2 separate regions of the Homo sapiens genome follow, and region 1 is linked to region 2. A link means that fine-mapping ties the variant in region 2 to the expression of a gene that starts in the linked region. Tissue or cell type: whole blood. Region 2 holds a variant in brackets; the other region holds the start of a gene. All regions are shown on one strand. Distances are from middle to middle.

Region 1 (2,683 bases), 310 kb before region 2:
GTCATCATTTTTAAAATATTTGTAAATATTAATAAACTCTTTGGCAATACTTTATGTAGATTATGTAGATTATGCTCGTAACATATGTTTAACAACCAAACTACAATAAATCCCTTGTTTTATTTTATAATTAGAATAAACAATATTTAACATTTAATATATTCAGCTTGATCTCAATTGTGCAAATGTAATGCATAGAAAAAAAGACTGAGTAACCCAAAACTCTACTGAGACCTCTGAGACCTGGGGCTGTGATGTTTACCCTTCTTTCTGCTTTTCTGTACTCTCCAAGCAGACAAGAAGAAGTATCTACCTATACATAGGAGTGTGGAATAGGAATAAAATCCCAGAGTGGCTGGCCACATCCCCAGGTTCTAACCCTGCTTTGGCTACCGTAAAACTGTGACCACAGGCAAGTCACTTGAGCACAACGAATCAGCTATTAGTACATGACAGTAGCCACCTTATATGTTTCTACTGTCCCCTTTGTCATTATGCAGAAGATATCTAGGCCACTATTCCCCAGTTATAATTTCCCTATTTACAAGCTCTGTCTTTCCAACTATTGCAAACGTATCCAGAGACTTAAGGAGAAACTTTACTTGTTTTGCTTCCTTGGCCAGTGCAGTTATTTAGAAATAATGAAGGGTCCATGTTTTTGCTGAGAATCTCAGCGCCATGTACCAGTCCAGCATTTCCCAACCAATGCAATAATACCATTGTCATGTCAGGGAGTGACAAGTGATTAAAAGGTGATTACAGTATTTGAAATGTGACATTTCAGGAAAAGCTGCCTCGGTTACTGAGTAGCGCAGGTCCCCCGATGTGGAACCTAGTTCCATCCCTGCCAGTTCAGAAGCCAGAGCGGATATGCTCCTGCCAACCTCGCCTTCTTTCCCTAACTGCTCTCCTCTACCCACTTCGGGTATGCCCTCCTCAGGGCCTGCAAGGCGCGGGGCTGGGAAGACCGGGAAAGTCGGGTCAGGGGCCCGCCCGCCCTACTCGACTCCCTGCGCCCTGCGCCCGGCTCTTTTTAACCCCAGCGCCGCCAGGCCCGCAGGGAGGGGGTTCCCGGGTTTGGACCCGGACTAGGAGGCCGCATAGGGCACGCGGCCCTACCTGTGAGGGAGGCCAGCTGGAGACTGAACCCACACTCGGGAAGGAGGCCCAGCCCCAATCGCCTCTCAGGAGTGGGCGGGTCCGCTCAGGGACAGGGGCTCTAGAGGGAACGGCCACGCCCCGGACGCCGCCGGGAGCCAAGCGCCAAGGGAGGGGCGGCGGGCAACCGAGGCCAGGCGCCCGGGACAACGAGTACCTGGCGGCCGAACTGAGGACAACTGAGGGAACTCGCAGAGCAGGGCGGGAACGCTTCCAGCAATGGCGGCGGCTCGGCGGTGCCGGCCTCCAGGCAGGGCATTGCGCCTGCGCAGCCGGAGCGTCGGAACTACAGTGCCCAGAATCCTCAGCGCCTGAGCCCCCCGCCCCTTTTGTCTGCGTTAGTGAAGGAATTGGCTCTTCGAGGGTGAGAAAAAATTCCAATTGGATACACTTCTGTTGAGAAGCCTTGACTATGTGTCAAAAGCAATAGCACTAGAGATACAAATAATGACACAACCCTTGTCTTGGAACATTTAGGTGCGACTAAAGAAAGCCGTCGAGAGAACAGATAGATGTGATCCAGACAAATATGTGAACAAGTGCTTGGAAACACATATTTCTGAACAATTCCCTTTATGACAATTCCCTCAGAGTTGGAAGAGACAACAATTGATGACTATAATGCCAATTAAGTAGAATGGATATGAATGTCTGAAAATAAGCTGGAAATTTTAAGGCCAAAATTCTTCGAAATACAAAGAAAAAACCTTTCTGAAGACAAATAGCTGTAGAAGTTCTCCTCAATGCATACAAATGATAATTCTTAAAACACAATGACTGAAAGTATTTATTTGCAACAAATTTATTTGACCACTTATTCAAGGGCTGCTCGTCCAAGAGCTATATTAAGGTCTATTTACTTTATCCCTACCAAAGGCGGTATTTTTTGAGGATAGAAACTACATCTCATGGAGTTTATCACTCAGAGTGCCTACTTAGGAGACTGCTTGCATACTGAATGAAACGAAGGAAGAATGAATGAATAATTTGGGACCCCACCTCCCAACACACTTCCACATATCGAAATGCACACGGAATGAGGTACATCTTCTAAGGAGAGTGGCATTGAAGAGTAATCAAAACAACAGGATATTCACAGGAGGACTGGAATAAAACGAAATTTCCAGTGAAAAAGATTACTCAAAATATTTATTCAATACACTCTGAAATTAGAAACTAAGCAAATGTCTTTTGGAGATCCCAGTTCCCTCACATTCCCCACAGATGAAGATGAGCCAAACAGAAGTCCAAAACTTAAACATTACAAAACAAATAATAAAATAAGACACTGTGACTGAAAATCAGCACAAACAATAAACGGCAGAAATATATCCCCCAAAACTTCAGAGGCAGAGCTCATTTGATTAAAAATTTAAAATTATTACATTTAAAATGTTTAAGGACATGATAGATGGAATTAAAAACATTATCAACAAACAACAGAATGTAAAATAAGCCACCAGGAAAGTTTAGAGAAACATACACATTTCGTTAAACTATTAAAAAAAAATGTTTAACACAATAT
Region 2 (2,683 bases):
AGGTGGATCATTTGAGGTCAGGAGTTCGAGACCAGCCTGGCCAATATGGTGAAACCCTGTCTTCACTGAAAATACAAAAATTAGCTGGGTGTGGTGGTGCATGCCTGTAATCTCAGCTACTTGAGAAGCTGAGGCAGGAGAATCACTTGAAACCAGGAGACAGAGGTTGCAGCGAGCTAAGATTGTGCCACTGCACTCCAGCCTGGGCCACAGAGTGAGACTCGGTCTCCCCCCCCAAAAAAAAAGAAAGAAAAAAAAAAGAAAGGAAAAGAAAGGTAATCATAGGACATGTACAGCAGCTCAGCTGTGGGCAATATTTATATTGTCATAAATAAATGAGCCATCTGAGTCAACAAATAAGGTGGAGATGTGGAATTATTCCTTCTGTAAAAGAGTTTACTCACTGTGAGAGCCATTAGACCATTGTCAGTGAGCAAAGGCAAAAACAGGCTTTCTAGGAGAGAGCAAGGAGAAGGGGAAGAACAAAACTGCAGAGGAGTTGACATTCTGGAGCAGAGCCGGCAGCCAGCAGGTCTATCTTGACTCCAACTGAAAACGCACCCCTCCTTCACCGGGGGCCGGGGGAGGGGAAGCTGCATGCATGCAGATAGTGACGTCCAAGTTAAGTTCTCACCTTAGAAAGTGGGGAATCAATCCAGAGCGTCTAAAATGGACAAGTCAAGGACCAGCAGGGGGAGTGGACCAGATTCTGAGCCACTTTGGGGATGAGCCTGGGGAAAGCCACAGGGCAGCCCTGCTTGGAACCCTGGGCTGTGAGTCATGGGGCTGGTACTCCTTGCTGTGTGACCTTGGGCACGACTTCTGCTCTTGGACACCCAGCGTCCTCCCCTGTAAGATGAGGATGCTGTTGCTTACTCACAGAATCACTGTGAGCAGCATATGCATGGCAGGTGCCTAGTATGGTATTGAGCACGTTAGTAAAGACAACCCCCTGAGCTGCTGCCCTTATTAATATTGCCATTTCTTATGATAAGGAGTGCTGTGCTGGACAAGGCCTACACCTGGATCGAGACAACAAAAATTTTAGGGGCCAATTCCTGTTGGCGTGAGCCAACTCCCTCTTTTCCTCCTTGGTGGGGAGGTGTCTGTGCAGGAGTGAAGGAGCAGGGTTGGGGCGATGGGTGGGCTCCTCATTCTTGCCCTTTACAATTTCACCAAGAAAACCTGTAGATGTGACTGAAAGAGAAGGAACAGTAAAAGCTTGGCAGATAGGAGGAATTTCTTATCAAGTTTTGTTTTTGTTTTTGTTTTTGTTTTTTTGGTTTTTTCGAGACGGAGTCTGGCACTGCCACCCAGGCTGGAGTGCAGTGGCACCATCTCGGCTCACTGCAAGCTCCACCTCCTGGGTTCACGTCATTCTCCTGCCTCAGCCTCCAGAGTAGCTGGCACTACAGGTGCCCACCACCACGCCTGGCTAATTTTTTTGTATTTTTAGTAGAGACAGGGTTTCACCGTGTTAGCCAGGATGGTCTCGATCTCCTGACCTCCTGATCCACCC[G/A]CCTCGGCCTCCCAAAGTGCTGGGATTACAGGCGTGAGCCACAGAGCCCGGCCTTTCTCATCCAGTCTTTCAAGCAAACACTGACTGCAAACTTGGGCTGGGGGCTATGAGTTGAGCTCACCAGTGGGGTAGGGGCAGGAGAGGATTCCAGCGTGCAGAGATAGGGTGTGTGCCCCGATAAGGCTGCAGCCTGAGACCTGAGGGATGTGCATGGGAATGGATGGTGACCTTACAACCTGGCTTCTGCTAACTGGGAAGGAGAAGGAGGAAGAAATGGAGGAGGAAAAGAAGGATGAGGAAGAGGAGGCAGAAGAGGAGAAGAAGGGAAAAAGAAGAGAGATGAGGAAGACAGGGAAGAGAAGGAGAGAAGGAAGGAGGAGGAGGAAAAGATGGCTTTTGGTTTCTGTGAGCTGTATATGCTTTTTCCCCGGGCTATTTTGAAATACTGAAAATGGCTCTAAGACCCCCCTGCCTGCTCCCACCTCCACTCAGAATGAACCTTCAGAGATGTTCAAGGTTGAGAGTCCACCATCTCCATGCCTTTTTTTTTTTTTTTTTTTTTTGAGATGGAGTTTCACTCTTGTTCCCCAGGCTGGAGTGCAGTGGTGAGATCTCGGCTCACTGCAACCTCTGCCTTCCGAGTTCAAGCAATTCTTCTGCCTCAGCCTCCCAAGTAGCTGGGATTACAGGTGTGTGCCCCTACACCCGGCTAATTTTTGTATTTTTAGTAGATGAGGTTTCTCCATGTTGGTCAGGCTGATCTCGAACCCCTGACCTCAGGTGATCTGCCTGCCTCAGCCTCCCAAAGTGCTGGGATTACAGGCGTGAGCCACCACGCCCGGCCTCCCATGCTGGTTCTAAAGGAAGAAGAACTTAGTTAGGTCCTGGGAAAACTGGTCAAGTCACCTTCTCAGTTTTCTGTTTGTGAAATGGGGACAGCCACTTCTACCCATCATAATTTTCACCTCCTGCCAGCTCATGTTGAAAACGGATTCGCCATGGTTCAGTGACCCAGAGTGTGCCGGAGTGAAGTGCCCGTGGTGGGGAAAGCACGGCTGAGTCATCTTGGGAAGGACTCTGGCTGTGCACAACCTCAGTTTTCCTGACCTGTAAAATGGACACTCTAGACTTTCTTTTGTAGATCTTCTCAAGGGTGTGTACATG

What was found. PIP is the estimated chance that this variant, and not a neighbour inherited with it, causes the effect.
Region 1: it holds the start of ZNF624, and the variant in region 2 is fine-mapped to the expression of ZNF624 in whole blood (INTERVAL, PIP above 0.99).

What each region holds. Positions count from the first base shown.
Region 1 is chr17:16,652,449-16,655,131 of GRCh38, forward strand. ZNF624 (zinc finger protein 624) reads right to left here and starts at 1,402. Exons shown (of 6, transcript NM_020787.4): 1 at 1,316-1,402. It overlaps LOC124903934 (a long non-coding RNA gene), which reads left to right and starts at 1,444. Exons shown (of 4, transcript XR_007065639.1): 1 at 1,444-1,522; 2 at 1,636-2,683. RefSeq lists an enhancer at 646-1,156 and a silencer at 1,112-1,311.
Region 2 is chr17:16,962,278-16,964,960 of GRCh38, forward strand. All of the region lies in intron 1 of TNFRSF13B (TNF receptor superfamily member 13B), which reads right to left. Among named protein-coding and RNA genes, the nearest start is that of TNFRSF13B, 8.5 kb to the right of the region's middle. RefSeq lists an enhancer at 2,286-2,555. The variant G/A (reference allele first, on the strand shown) is at 1,520.